Linked DNA regions of Homo sapiens: region 2 is linked to region 1. Evidence: fine-mapped expression QTL. A gene starts in region 1. The other region holds a variant in brackets. All regions are shown on one strand. Distances are from middle to middle. Region 1 holds the start of AGTR1 (angiotensin II receptor type 1). Region 2 has its middle 40 kb from the start of AGTR1.

Region 1 (8,346 bases):
TGTTGCTAAATAAAAACCTTTATTTTAAAAATAGGTTTTAATTATTAATAATTTATATTACTTTCCTGATCCACAATGTGGTCTAGCACAGAGGTGTTAGCCATTGCATGAAAGATAGGAACTGAGCCCCTCTTCTCTCTTCAGAAACTTGGAAGCAAGAAACAAAAGTCAGACATTCATGTCTTTACTCATCTACACAAATTTCATATTTTACCTTTTTAAAATAGCTTTACTTATATATACTCTACATACTATACAGTTCACCCATTTAAAGAATTAAGTTTATCCTAAAGCTGCTTCCTTACGTATTTTAAATTTGGCCTAAAAGTTTCTCAGCATGTAGTGAACTGTAACCTAACTGGATGCTGAAAAGACTGAAACCTACTCTTGTGCCAATCACAGAGTTTCAGCATATCTAAGGTGGTCAGTTGTTCAAACTGTGTTCAAATAAGGCAAATGCCAAATTATAACCAATTCTATTTCTGTACCTCATTTTTGTCTTCTTTACATCACTTTCCTTTTTCTGCCCATAAATCTTTTTCAACCACGAGGCAGTGCTGGAGTCTCTCTGAACCTATTGCAGTTCAGTGGCTGCCCGATTTGCACATCACTCTTTGCTCAATTAAGCACTGTTAAATTTAATTTGACTAGGTTTGTCTTTTAACAAAGATGTACAGTTCAATGTTTTTTGTATGTTTTCAAACATACAAAAGTTGTGTAATGATCACCATAATCAAATGTACAATTTTTTATCATCGTCCAATTAGCAGACACTACCATTCCCTCCTACCCCTCCACTCTCAGCCTAGGCAATCAAAATTCTCTACAGTTATGTCACTCCTGAATATTTCATATAAATGAAATCATATAATATGTCTTCTTCTGTGACTGGCTTCTTTCAATTAGCACAAGGTTTTCAAGGCACTTCCATGTGTAACATGTACTTTATTCCCTTTTATTGCCAAACAATATCCTATGGTATGGAGATATCACATTTTATCTATTCATCAGTTGATAGATATTTGACTTATTTCTGCTTTGGGGCTATTATGAATAATGCTGCTATGAATTTTCACGTCTACATTTTTGTGTGGACATATGTTTTCATTTCTAATGAGTATATACCTAGGAATGGAATTGCTGAGCCATATGGTAACTCTATCTATGCTTAGCATTTTGAAGAATTGCCACTGTTTTCCAAAATGGCTGCACTATTTTATATTCCCACCAACAATATATGAGGGATCCAATTTCTCCACATTCTGGACAACACTTGTTACTATCTGACTTTTTGATTATAGCTATCCTAGTAGGCCTAAAATCATAACTAATTGTTCCTTTGAGTTGCATTTTCCTGCTGGCTAATAATGTTGAGTTTTTTTATGTGTTTGTCTACCTTCTTTAGAGAAATGTATATTAAGATCCTTTGACCATTTTTAATGGTGTTTTTATTATCTTTGTGTGTGCTTTATTATCTTTATATGTTCTATACACAAGTCCTTATCAGGTATATAATTTGCAAATATCTTTGCACATTCTTGGCTTTTTCTTTTCACTTTCTTGATACCCTTGGAAGTATAGATGCTGTTAATATTGATGAAATCAAATTAATTTACCTACTTTTTCTTGTATTTCTTATGCTTTTGGAGTTGTATCTAAGATGGCTTTGCATAACCCAAGGTAACAAAGGTTTACTCCTACGTTTTCTATTTAGTTTTATAATTTTTCTCTTAAGCTTGGGTCTATGATCCATTTTGACTTAATTTTTACATGTGGTATTATAAGGAGTCCAACTTCATTCTTCTGCATGCAGATATCCAATTATTCCAGTACCATTTGTAATAAAGATTACTCATTCTGCATTTTTTCAACCCTTTTCAAAATCTAGTGGCTCATAAATGTAAGGGTTTAGTTTGTGGACACAATTCTGTTCCATTGATCTTTCTATCTATTGCTATGCCAGTACCACATTGTCTTGTTTATTGTAATTTTGCAGTAAATTTTGAAATTGGTAAGTTTGTTCTTTTTCAGAATTGTCTTGACTATTCTGGGCCCCTCGCACTGCTACATGTTTTTAGGATAACTCCATTCATTTCTGCAATAAAAGCTTGCTGGGTTTTGATAGAGATTTTGTTTAACCTGTAGATCATTTGAAGATTAATGCCATTGTAACGATATTAAATCTTTCAATCCAAGAACATGGAATGTCATTCCATTTATTTAGGTCTACCTTATTTCAACAATTCTTTTTGTTTGTTTTCAGACTACAAGTTTTAGATCCTTTTGTTAAATTTATTTCTTAGGGTTTTTTTTGTTTTGTTTTGTTTTGTTGGTTGGTTGGTTTGTTTTGAGATGGAGTCTCACTCTGTCACCCAGGCTGGAGTGCAGTGGCACAATCTCAGCTCACAGCAACCTCTACCTCCTGGGTTCAAGCGATTCTTCTGCCTCAGCCTCCTCCTCCTGAGTAGCTGGAACTACAGGCATGCACCACCACGCCTGGCTTTTTTTTTTTTTTTTTCTTTTGCATTTTTAGTAGAGACAGGGTTTCACGATGTTGGCCAGCCTGGTCTCGAATCCCTGACCTTGTGATTCACCCACCTCGGCCTCCCAAAGTGCTGAGATTACAGGAGTGAGCCACTACACCAGGTCATTTCTTAGTATTTTTACTCTTTTGATCTATAGTAAGTAAAATTGTTTTTATCTTTGAATTTTTAAATTTTTAACACAGTTCAAATCAGTGTGTCTGATTTCATCTCCTTCTCTAACAAACCAGGGTGCCAGAACTGCTTCAGTTTCTCTGCCTTCTCTTTGTCTATGATGACTAATGTATGAAGGTATCTGCTGCATCAAACTTTAAACTTCACATTATCCTTATTTCTCTTGACCTTGACAGATCTGGCATCTTTTCACCTGGCTGTAAGCAGAAAGTCCTTGATCTCCTTAACTTTTTGAGGCATGGCAGCATGTGAGGCAGGGAGAGGACACAGACCCACACAGCAAGTGGTGAGAAGCCAACAGTGGAATTGTTTTCTTAATTCCATTTGTTGATTGTTTATTGCTAGTGTATAGAAATACAACTGATTTTTGTATATTGATCTTGTATTCTAAAAACTTGCTCAACTTGTTTCTTAGTTCTAATAGTTAATTAATTGATTCCTTAGGGCTTTTTAATACAAGATCATGTCATCTACAAATAGAAATTGTTTTACTTTCTTTCTAATCTGGATGCCATTTATCTTTTTTTCTTGTCCAATTGCCCTCACTAGAACCTTTAGTACAAAGTTAAATAGAAATGGGAAGACTAGACATTTTGTCTTGTTCCTGATCTTAGACATAAAAACGTTGTCTTCCGTTATTATGTGTGATATTAGTTAAGTTTTTCATAAATAAACTTCACAGTTTGAGGAAGTTCCTATTCCTAGTTTGTTGAGTGTTAGCATGAAAAAGTGTTGAATTTTGTCCAATAGTTTTTAAAAATTTTTTTAGACAATCATGTAGGCTTTGTCCATTTTTTACTTCTTTAAATTTATTTTTATTGATACACAATAGATGTACACTTTTTAGGTACATGCAATAATTTAATGCCCCTCACTATAAATTCGGAGCTGCCTCCTCGCCGATGATTCCAGCGCCTGACAGCCAGGACCCCAGGCAGCAGCGAGTGACAGGACTTTTTAGGTACATGCAATAATTTAATGCATTCATATAAAGATCAAATCAGTGCAATTGGCATATCCATCACCTTAAATATTTGTCTTTTCTTCATGCTAGAAACATTCAAGTTATTTTCTCCTAGCTACTCTGAAATATACAATAGATTACTGTAAACTACAGTCACCCTACTCACCTATCTAACATTAATTGATTTTTGGTAAACTAATCTAATCTTGCTTTCTGGCATCAACCTCACTTGACCATGGTGTATAGTCCCTTTCATATGTTATTGGATTCAATTTGCCTACATTTTGTTGAGAATTTTTATCTATACTCTTAAGAAATATTGATCTGTAGTCTCGTGATGTCTTTATCTGGTTTTGTTATCAGGGTGATACTGGCCTCATAGCATGAGTTGGGAGATCATCCTTACTCTTCTATTTTTTGGAAGAGTTTGTGAAGAATTGATATTATTTCTTCTTTAAATATTTATTGGGTTTTTAAAATACATTTTTAAAATGCAACTTGGGTAGCATGTCCAATAGGAACAAATGAGTGTCCACCCTTGAATTTCATAACCCTGGAATTAATCCATGTAATCTATGATCCACAACTGTATTACCAAAGTTCGAGTTACTCATAGGAAAGAGAAAGAAGTTCTCTAATTCGTCCTTAAAAGTTTTCCAAGTTCAGAAAAAAAAAATGTTGAAGAACACGAATCTCCGCAGGAAATGATACTCCTGTACCCCCAGCTCGCTCTCCCTCACGACCCCTCGCTAGGCGGGGTTCGGGACCAGGTGAACGCTGATCTGATAGTTGACACGGGACGACTGTGGCATCATCCTTGCTGCCGTCAATATCCCGAGAGGGAGGAGGTTGGGCCGGGAGGGTCTCCCGGGGCGGGGCGGAGGAGGAGGGAATGCAAAACAGAGCCTCGTCCCCGGAACCCAAGAAGCAGCAACGCCCCTCACTATAAATTCGGAGCTGCCTCCTCGCCAATGATTCCAGCGCCTGACAGCCAGGACCCCAGGCAGCAGCGAGTGACAGGACGTCTGGACCGGCGCGCCGCTAGCAGCTCTGCCGGGCCGCGGCGGTGATCGATGGGGAGCGGCTGGAGCGGACCCAGCGAGTGAGGGCGCACAGCCGGGACGCCGAGGCGGCGGGCGGGAGACCCGCACCAGCGCAGCCGGCCCTCGGCGGGACGTGACGCAGCGCCCGGGGCGCGGGTGAGTCCGCGCGGACCGCCAGGCATGCTTGGGGGACTTCAAGGGCGGGGTGCTAAGTTTCATGTCACGGTGTCCTAACTGCTGGCTCTATACTGGGAAGCTCTCGGGGACCAAGGAAAGAGCGACCGTAGTTCTGGTCAGCGCCTGCCCCTGGAGCTGGCCACACTTTCCCAAATCAGGTGAGGGGCTTCTGGAATGGGAGGGAACAAGGTAGGTTTGTTTGCCACGTGCCTCGAAATTCTCAATCCATTTTAACCAAACTCTTCCGAGTGCAAGGAAGAAATCTACAGAAATAAGATGCAATTCAATAAACTTTCTTCCTGAGGCTTTTAGTTAACTCTTGTATTTTAGCCATCATCTGAGCGGGAAGCCGGTATGACTCTGCAAGGCGTTCGTTTAAAAGTTGTGCTACTTTTGAGGTGAAGTTAAGAGTGTCTCCATCCACGCCCTCTGCTTCCCAGTCAATGTCCCTGCACTGCTCACGTCCCTTTAGCTCTCTCCCTGCAAACCATAGCGGTGGGTCCTAGACACGGGACATCGCTCCAACCTTGGCCAAACTCTCCCACCCTCAGGGTTCCCAGATGTCCTTTGAATAATCAAACTGAGGAAGGAGAAGCAAGATGTCTCCACACCCCAATCCCTACAGCCTTAGCCAATGCATGTGTGTAACTGAGACAGAATTTTAGCAAAAGGTCTCCTGCTTCCAGGACTAAACAGAGCCTCTGGCAGGCCACTGCCCGACACCCAACTCCATCCTCCAATTTTCTTAAATGTCCAGGTAAACATCTCCATAGTGCCAGCCTGCTATAGTCTCCCGAAGACCTCAGCAATTCTTCCCCAAAGCGTCTCCTTCTGCACCGTTTTTTTCTTTGGGCAACCATTTGTGACCTGGCTATTGAGCCCACCTGGGCCTCTTCTCTTTGTTTGCTGATAGCCTCGTTAAGTATTAAAAACCTACTCCCCCCCTTCAGGAGCCCTCTTTTAATGAAAGTTTGGGTACTGGGATCAGATTTGGGACTTGGCTACATTTATTTCCTGTGTCATTCTGAGAAGAGAAAGTAATAGAGGCAAGAAATTTGGCACCCTATTGATCTATTTTATTACTTTGTTGAGCAACTTGTGCTTCCCGCTGAAGATGCTGCATCCCAACATGATTCTCTTATTATTAGTTACCACCTGAGGGTTTTGGATCTCCAGGTGTTTATTTCACATAGCATATGCTTTAACCCCCTTATAAGTCTTCTCTAAGGAAGAAACTGCCATACTTCCCTTGTCTTCTCCGGTGTTTCCCTAGCTATAAAGGCCCCACCTGCATAACCTGTCCTCAGGCTGTGATGTATTCCCGGGTGCCCTGGTACCTTCTCCTTCCTCTCCACCACCCTTCCTGACAGTGCAGGGGCAGGAAAGCATGGGGAGAAGGGAAATGGAGACTCCCACTTAACTTGCTGTGTGATAGTAAGAGCATTATTTCACAACTCTGAACCTCAAGTCTCTGCCCATAAGGTTCCCTCCAGTGATATAATTCCTTAATTTCTTTTGTTTTGGTTATTGCTTTAAAATAAAAGTCTAAGCTTAAGGCTAGGTTATAGAAACTGCCCATCATAATTGCTAGGTCTCAACATTTGCTTAAGTTTTGTGATTCTTAGTTTCAAGTCTGTTACCCACTCTCTCTCCCCGCCACCTTTTTTCCCCCTGACTTCATTGTTCTTTGTTCCCATCCTGAGGCCTTGATTTCTGGTTCTGCTCTTCTTTGACCTTAAACTGAATCAACTCTTCCATCATCCAACTCAGAATAAAATTGGTTTTCTTCCACCGGTTCCACTGATGCCAATGGAAGACTTGTCTTCCTTGCGATTTGCAAAATGTCTTTCAGTCACAGGTGCTGCGGCAATGCTGCTGTCCCACAGCATTCTAAGCTTCAGTCTTTCTCTCTCTTATCGTGGGTCAGTATTCAGAAAAGGGCAGATTTGTGGGTTGTTCAGGTTTCTCACTTTTCTTTTTCTTCTTTCTAGTTTGGGATCAGAGTTGTGTGAGTATTTGTGTATATAATTTTGTTTTGGTTTTTTGTTCCTGCTGCTACTTACGACTGCTGTTATTATTTCAATTATGACTAATTAATACTAATGACTAATTTTCCCCTATGCTAGAGGGAAAATAAGGAAGAAAAGTTTACTCTGCTACTTACCCAAAGCCCAGGTAAAATGCTTAGCTGAGAAGGAATTTAAAACTCATAGTTTAAATGCATGATGCATGTCTGCTGTCATTTTATCTGTGCTGCCACAGTGTCCTTTCAAGCAGATAACTGAGAGTTGCTGTATTTTGCTTTCGAATTTGTTACAGGGACAAAAATAGTGACCCCTCACATTTAGGTGTTTTGGCTGCTTAATGCGAGCTCCTGCCCTCTAGCCGCATGCTTATTAGTTTACCTAGCCCTTTTTCTGGTCAGTCATGACTGGAGAATGCCAAAGAGTCTCCCAAGTAGGCTACCAAATTAAGAATTGTGTTTAGAAGTTTGAAGTCAGTCCAAGTGTTGTAAAGATTAAAACGTTGTTTTGAAGATATGCTGTGTCAATAAACAAATATGGAGCCAGAGCAACACAATGTGACCAAGTGTCCAAGCCCAGCTTAGGAACACTTTTCTCCCATGTTATCTAGCAAACTGACAAATCAGCTTTCCAACACGTGATGATTGGAAAATGCTATTAGTTTCCTTCAAAATTCTCCTAATGTTTCTTTTTCAAAATTGCCTAAGATCATTGGATTATGTGGTTTGTGTTTCTTTTCACTGTAGCTGCTTGTTAAAGCAGTATACTCAATCTCTGATAAGCAACAGTAAATTTGATCGATTTGTATCCTAAATTTAGCTATCACTTTACATTTTGTTTTATTCATAATATGAACTTTAGCTTCTAAAAATCAACTTTTTAATAGCTTAATATATAAAGCCATCTTAAATCAAGGAATATCTATAGGGACTTAAGGTAATATTCAACTAAATTGGCAAGTGACTACCATTATCCTATTAAAGCTCTAAAATGCAATATTTCAATCACAGAAAAAAAATCTTATAATTTAAAGAACTATAAATTGCCAGATGTTTCCCTAGTTATTACGTTAGTGACAAATTAGACAACTGGAAATAGAAAACAGAGTATATGTTTGGAACAGTCATAAAAGGACTAGTGACTATTGCTGCTAGCTGTGGTTGTATTAACATTAAAATATTTGCTATGGGATTTTTCTTCTTATCAAAGCAGATGCTCAGATGAGGAAAAACTTTCTTGCATATGAAAATCAAAATTGTCTTCCAAAATATTTAAGTAACAAAAAATTCATTATGTAGTATAAATGCTGTATGATTACATTATTCTTATAGTTAATTTAGAAGGGTTTGAATTTGTTTTTGTTTTGTTTGTGTTTGTTTCTTCGATAGGTGCATTCTCTAACTGTCTTAAGTAGAAACAAA
Region 2 (8,346 bases), 39 kb before region 1:
CCATTTTAATCCCTTAACTTAAATCATATTGTGAAGGAAAATGTCACCAAAAACCTCTTCAACTGTTTATCTAAAAATCCAGTTTACACATTTTTGTCCTTTGAGGGAATAATTACTAATTCTGCGGGTTGCGCTGATGTCTACATATCCTAAGCTATTGAAATAGCCTGGCAATAGGAGAGAAGCTAGTGAAGGAAAAGGGTTGTAACCATTAGATTCTGACGTCTTAATATAATTTATGGGAAGCCCATAATTAAGTCCAATTCTGAATTGTCGCTTCTTTTTTTTGTCAAATTTTATTGTAGATTTGGGGGTACATGTGCACATTTGCTACGTGGGTAAATTGCACGTTGCAAAGATTTGGTGTGCAAATTATTTCATCATCCACCTACTGGGCATAGTACCCAGTAATAGATAGTTTTTCAACCCTCAACCTCCTACCACCCTCCCCTGTCAAAGAGGCCCCGGTGTCCACTGTTGCCATGTATACGTAATGTTAAGCTCCCACTTATAAGTGAGAACATGTGGTATTTGGTTTTCTGTTTCTACATTAATTCCCTTGAGTTAATGGTCTCCAGCTGCATCCACGTTGCTGCAAAGAACAAAATGTCATCCTTTTTATGGCTGCATAGTATTCCATTGTGTATACGTACCATATTTTCTTTATCCAGTCTGCTGTTGATGGGCACCTATATTGATTCCATGTCTTTGTTATTATGAATAGGGGTGTGATAAACATGCAAATGCATGTGACTTTCTGGTAGAATAATTTGTTTTCTTTTTAATATTTACCCAGTAATGAGTTTGCTGGGACAAATGGTAGTTCTGTTTTTCCTTTGAGAAATTTCCAAACTGCTTTCCACAGTGGCTGAACTAATTTACACCCTCACTAACAGCGTATAAGGAGTCCCTTTTTTCTGGAACCTCGCCAGCATCTGTTGTTTTTTGAATTTTTAATAATAACAGTTCTGACTGGTGTGAGGTGGTATCTCACGGTGGTTTTGATTGCATTTCTTTCATGATTAGTGATGTTGAGCATTTTTTTTTTTTTTTTTGAGATGGAGTCTCACTCTGTCACAGGCTGGAGTGCAGTGGTACAGTCTCAGCTCACTGCAACCTCCGTCTCCCAGGTTCAAGCAATTCTCCTGCCTCAGCCTCCTGAATAGCTGGGACTACAGGTGTGCACCATCATGCCCAGCTAATTTTTGTATTTTTAGCAGAGATGGGGTTTCACCATATTGGCCAGGATGGTCTCAATCTCTTGACCTCATGATCTTCCCACCTCAGCCTCCCAAAGTGCTGGGATTACAGGTGTGAGCCACCATGCCAGGCCTGAGCCACCAACCCCAGCCGAGCATTCTTTTATGTGGTTGTTGGCCACATATGTGTCTTCTTTTGAGAATTGTCTGCTCATGTTCTTTGCCCGTTTTTTAATGGGCTGTTTGGGGTTTTTGGCTTTTTGATTTGTTTAGATTTCTTATAGATTCTGCATATTAGAACTTGTCAGATGCAGAATTTGCAAATATTTTCTCCCATTCTGTAGGTTGTCTGTTTACTCTGTTGTTAGTTTCCCTTGCTGCACAGTATGCTTTAGTTTTAGGTTTCTAAATAGACAAACAATTTAGGTTTCTAAATAGACAAATAATTAATTTGTCTAGTTTTGTTTTTGTTGGCAATTGCTTCTGAAGACTTCTTGTCATGAAGTATTTGTCAAGGCCTGTGTCCAAAATGGTATTTCCTAGGTTGTTTTCTAGGGCTTTTATAGTTTTAAGTCTTAGATTTAAGTCTTTAACCCACTACTAGCTGATTTTTGTATATGGTGAAAGGAAGGGGCCCAGTTTCAATCTTCTGCATATGCCTAGCCAGTTATCTCAGAACCATTTATTGAATAGCATGTTATTTCCCCACTGCTTATTATGAATTTTCTCAAAGATCAGATGGTTGTAGGTATGTGGCTTTATTTCTGGGTCCTCTAACCTGTTCCATTGGTCTATGTGTCTGTTTTTTGTACCAGTACCATGCTGTTTTAGTTACTGTAGCCTTGTAGTATAGTTTGAGGTGAGGTAGTGTGATTCCTCTGGTGTTGTTCTGTTTGGTTAGATTGCTTTGGCTACTTGGCTCTTTTTTGGTTTGATATGAATTTTAGAATTTTTTTTCTAATTCTGTGAAAAATGACATTGGTAGTTTTTTAGGAATAGTATAGAATTTGCAAATTGCTTTGGGCAGAATGGCCTTATAACAATATTGATTCTTCCTATCCATGAGCATGAAATGCTTTTCCATTTGTTTGTGTCATCTCTACTTTCTTTCAGCAGTGTTTTATAATTCGTGCCATGGAGATCTTTCACCTACCTATTTAGCTCTATTCCCAGATATTTTATTCTTTTTGTGGCTGCTAAATTGTCACTTCCGAGGGACTAGGAGCCCAGAGATATTTTAATGTTTAATTTCACTTCTCATACTCACCTAGACTTATAGATGGTGCTCAATATGCATTTGTTGAATCTAATAAATTAGATTAGAAACCAGTTCTCTTAAAAGTGAAAACTTTTCTTGTATTTTACCCAAATTTCCCCTCAATGACATTTGGGTCTATACCTGCTCATGTGTCCAATCAATTCAGAATCTCATTATTCAAGAAAAGACCTCAGTTTTGTACTGTCAAAAGAAAAGATGTGTTTGAGATAATGTTCTTCAGTTTAAAAAAATTAAAGTTGTTAATAATTAATGTGTTCAAATCATTTTATCAGATATATGTGTATACGATATGATAGCATATAGTATATATATGTATATATATGCATTATCACTTAGGATATGTAGCTGCAGTATATTTTTAGCTTTGGAAGACAGGACTACTTGTAAGAAATTGTGAGAATTAACAAACAAATGGCTCAAAATATCATACACATATGAAAATTCCTAAAGGGAGAAAACTCTCCATTGGCAAAATATGTCTTGGGGAAATTATGGTTTTTTTCTTCCCCTGTAAAATCTTTGAAGCCATGGAAAATTCCAAACAACAGGTGAGAAAACTAAAAAGTAGCCACTTTACTACCATAAGAAGATATTGATGAAAGGTAGTAACGTCAGCATACACTTCAACATTATCAGCAAGGAAACTTTTTTCCCAAGAAATAATAGAAATAGAGATGAAGAAGGGTTATGTTATAAATCATATTTTGAATTGTGAATTTTTTCAGGTGACTAGACTGAAGGGTAGAAGATGCTAAGCCATTTGCCATTTAATCCATTTCATTTAAAGGATCACTAGCTATATTTAATGACATCCAAAAATAAACTCTTCAGATGCTGAAATACTAGACTGGGAAGGCAGGCAGGGGAAGCAGGAAGGTTATTCTGGCTTTATTTCATTTTCTTGAAGGGCAAAGGCGGCTTCTCATTCATAAGAAGAAACTGACCTCAAACTGACAGAAGGTACAAAAAAAAAAAACAACTATACCAGGTCTATGGAACTAGAGTTGACAATTGATACCTATCCACAATAGCAGCAAATTATTTCCTTCTACAGAAATTCAAGACAGAATCCCCACCTCTAATGAAGTTGGAAATTGTAATGGTTATTAATTCGTCTAACTAATGTGAAATTGTATATAGCAAAGTACAAGCAGGGCAAGTACTTGATTTCAAGCAAACGGTTCTTAGTGATTGCATAATACACACTTCAAAGGACCTGAGACTCAACAGGATTTATTTCATTGAACACTTTCAACACCTATTGTAATTCAGCCTTTTTATTCAACAGTAGCTCAAGCACGTTAACATTGTCAAACTGCATAAAAACATTAAGTTCCGAAACTTTCTCCTTGTATTTTTTTATCTTGAATTCACATATGATTATCTTTTTTTTCTTCTTGATTTCAGGTACAAAAATGTCCACATAGATATACCTGTCAAAAATCTACCGTTAGTAATTAGGTAGCTACTACACAGTTGGATGGTTTAGCTAGAATCAGTATATGATATTTTTAAAACAATTTTTTAATGAGATATGGCTGTCTCTCTTACAACACTCTGAATATATCCTATTGCATTTTCTCCTTTCTAGAGCCCCTGTATTCTATCTACTGAAATCTCTGGCTTACTCATGTGGAATGCATTCAGCCTTATTGAGGTGGTAGCTGAATGTCAGAATCAGTAATTATCAGTGGGACACAAGATGGAGACATGACCTGCCAAAGAACATCATATTGTATCACTTATAGTACTTTGTCAAGTTGCAAATATAGAGGATCCTCACTGGAGGTTTGGCATTGATCCCCGTGGCAAGGGTGGATGGGAGCGAACAGCACATCTTGCAGGTTGAAAATTAATTCCACTGCGAATATGTGTCAATCCTTAGAAGTGTTGGTATCAAAAAAATGTTGAGAACTACTCTTCTAAATCCCACCCAACCACCCAGAGATATGCTTACAGCTTTGTTTCTCTTCAAGCACCTGGCATATAAGTGCTTAGAAACTACTGTTAAATAAACAAGTAAGTCAATGCATAAATAATTGAAAGTTTTCACATAATCTGAAAGTTTAAACATTTGCTTTACAGTCTAAAATTCCTGAAGTCATCATTGTGGAACAGATGATTTCACAATAAACACTGATCCTAAACAAAATAACATGAGATCTCTATCAGTGAAATAGTAAAATGAACATTAACTATTCGAAGGCTTAACTAAATGAGGACTCAATTTATTCAGACATCCTAACCTTGTTCCCCCAATAGCCATATCTCCCCTCTCCAAGAGGCCGCATTTGTGTACCTTCTCAAGCCATCATTTCTTTGATGGACCCATACTTGCTC[T/C]GGAAAAATCAGGAGCTTCAGGAAGGGTGGAAAGGATAACGATCTTTCTACTATCCATGCTCCCTCTATCAGCCAAGAGTTCCATTCACTTCCTCAGCCCTAATTTCAGACTTTAGTTAAACTGATTAGTGAGAAGTCAGCATGAGTAAAGGAATAAGTAGTTCCCCATGGCTGAGACAGCTAGCTGATCCTTAAACTTGGTGCTCCTCCCTTCCATAATATAAGTGGTTATTGAAAAGTTACTGTCAGTTAGGGTCTACGTTTCCTGACTTTTCTTGCATTTAAGAATGGTCGATGTGACTAGTTCTTGCCGGTGGACTATCAACAGAAGTGAGATGTGTTGCTCCTGTGCTAATAGAGTTTAAACAGAAGAGCCTTCTCCTCACCCCCGCTCTCCTCTTTTGCCAGCTGAATACCAGGGAGACAAAGTCTTAGAGAATAACGGAACCACAAAGTGGAAGAAATCTGGATCCTTGAGTCACTACATGGTGTAGAAGACTGGCACTCACCAGTCAGGAACACTACCACTGGTCTTTTACATGAATAAGAAATAAATTTGTGTTCTGTTAAGTCACTGAAATTTGAGGATGTATTTATGATAGTAGCAACAATTACACTAATGAGTACATTTCTCCACCTATTTACTTGATGCTCCAGTAATAACAACCTACGTGCAATTTCCCGGCTCCACCAGGCAGTTTCATGCCTTCATGTGTTTGCACATGCTGATCCTTCATAATTCTTAATTTTCTCTACCTATTTTCTCTCCTTTCTGGCACTTTTTCCTTCACTGACTCTTACTAATCCTTAAAAACTCAGCTCCTAGGCTTCTGTGAAGCATTACTCTGCCAACAGGCTCCATTCCTGCCATGTACTTTCCTAGTCTGTACATAATTCCACTTTTGCATATGTCACAATATTTTAGGATTCTCGGTTTATAAATATGTCAACCTTACAACATACACATTTGTCATATTTCTACCCTGTAAAGCTTCCAACAGAGTGGTGATACATAAAAGATGATTTATGACTGTATGCTAGGTTCCTATCTCATTAGGATTTTATTTTAAATTAATCTGATCCATGGAGGATTAGAAACTAAGAGTCTGTTAGCCGTTGGAAGATGGTGACAGCAATGAAAGAGAGGAATCCTGGTGTGTGCTGCTAATTACTCTAGAATAACAGCAATGCAAGCTTGCAAATAAAGCAAGGAAAACACGTGCACTTCTATAGGTTAACAATTTCGGCAGAAGTTCAAAGGAAACAGAGATCCTGATGTAGGGGACGAGCCCAATTTTAAGTTTCAACATTTCAACATAAGACTTTGGTTCAACATATGGCTCAACATAAGACCTTTATTGCATGTAGTATTTATATTTTAATATAAATGAATTTTGTTTTAAAGGACATGGTCTATTGTTTTTCAGAAATTTGGGAAGATTAAATGAGTTAATAGACACTGGCACATAATGAGTATTGAATAAATGTTGGATAAATGCACTTATAAAATGATGTTCATGACCAAAACGATAAGTATTTTTTTAAACTGAATCTATGTGGTTTTGTATCATAAGTGCTGACCCAGGTTTTTCATCCTTTATTCCTTTATTTTTTTTAATACTGTACTTTATGCCAAATATTCCTGTCTTGAGGCAGGCTTGGAGGCTGGTATGGTACGTGGGAGTAGAAGATGAGATTCTGTGGGTAGAATCATAAGGTTTTAGGAGGTGAGGGAGCTCATTTACAAACTTCTCTGGGCCTTTCATTTGGTGCAAATTTGAGACAGGTTGTTTTTCAACTTAGAAAAAGAATCGCTCATTGAATTTTTCTTTTAAAATTATATTTTATTATATTTAAAATATATATTATATAAAATATATATTATATTTTATTATATTATATTTAAAATTATATTTTATTCTGCCTACTGGTTTTACACTGGTCCCCATAAAATGTACATTATAAAAAATACAAACCTCATTTGATAAGCCTATTACCTGATGTTCATGGCTGCTAGCTTTATTCTATTGAATTCAAATTTGCCTGTGGCAGTGCTTTGTATCTAATTTGTGACTTTCACAAGGTGAGCCTTGCATCATTTTCCTTTGCCTCTGCTTCCATTTATCTAAATGAAAACAGTTTCTCTTAATGCATAGGTTTGCTTGATAAGCCATTAATACCACAGCTGGGCCTTGAAATGCTCATAAAAAGAAGCATCAAAATAAATATTTATTGTTGTTTCACCCAGACATACAAACCTTGGATATCTTTAATACGGCTGGCTACTTGGTTTCTAGTTTAATACAGCTTATTTACTTGATTTCATTTTCTCAAATAATTGCTATTTCTCTGAAGGTTATTTGAGGGGAAGAGGTGGTTGAAGGAGTGGAATGAATATTGAAATATGTGAGATGGAGGCTGATGGTACATTTAAGTTGATTAGAAGAAGACTGAAATGAAATGAGGGCCAAATGTTTTGCGTGTAAATTCATGAACTTGTACAGAATTTATCAAACTTAGAAAAATATCTGTTAAACACAGCATTTCATAAACACAGCTTAGGAAAAAACAAACAGAGCTCTTAGCTTACTAAATTTCACAGAGAATAATTCTCAAAGGGAAAAACAAATCATGAGGAGGCTTGTGGTATTTTCTTTAGCTTCTATATCTTTTATGATTGGTGCTCAGTATATTTTAAGTCATATTTATATTCCAAATGCCTCTATCATGTGATGAGCAATATTTGCACAGCTTCAAAAATAATCCTTAAGAGCTATTTAAAACATAAATGTCATTAAACAACATGCAATAAAGTTTAAAATTCCTCTCTTGTTGGCAGAACCCTGTGAAGGGCACTTAACTAGGCATATGGTCCCTGAGGGTCCAGAGCTCATGATGTGATGGAAAAAGACATAAGTCCTCATGTTAGGGACACAATGGAGGGAAGTCCACCCACTGTGGACATCAGGGAAGCCTTCGTGGATGATATGGTAACTGAATTGGGTTTAAAGAATGTAGGCATTTATAGGAATTAATGAGCAAAAAGAGGCATAAGGAAAAGGATCCGGCAGAGGGAAAAACATTAACATGAGCATTTCTCAGGTGCGACAGAGCATAATGTGCAAGGAATATTACAGCTCTTTCTATATTACTGAACATTTTTTAACACCCTATTCTTGCTATCATTTAAAGAAATTATTTTAGGAATTACATATTTTTAAGTATTAATTCTTTAGCTAAAGTTTTATTTAGCTAAACCATGATTTTTTTAATACATGTAAGTTTAAGGATGAAAACATGAATGTCCCTTGTTTCAAAAGGCAACTTACTACCTCTATACATGCTTATTTGTATTTGTTACATAAATACTAATGAGGTATCTAATCAATTGTAAAATCTATAAAAGAAAAAGGAACACAGTTGAAAAATATCAGGTTTCTTTTTTACAAATTGATCATAAAAGCTAAGAAAACTTTTTTCCTTGGAAGCATTTTGCTTGGCCTTTTGTAATTAAGAGAGTACTTTAGG

Evidence for each region.
Region 2: its variant is fine-mapped to the expression of AGTR1 in lung (TOPMed, PIP above 0.99).

The regions. Positions count from the first base shown.
Region 1 is chr3:148,693,248-148,701,593 of GRCh38, forward strand. AGTR1 (angiotensin II receptor type 1) reads left to right here and starts at 4,656. Exons shown (of 3, transcript NM_000685.5): 1 at 4,656-4,880. It also overlaps the pseudogene RPL38P1.
Region 2 is chr3:148,653,990-148,662,335 of GRCh38, forward strand. No RefSeq gene overlaps it. Among named protein-coding and RNA genes, the nearest start is that of AGTR1, 40 kb to the right of the region's middle. The variant T/C (reference allele first, on the strand shown) is at 4,819.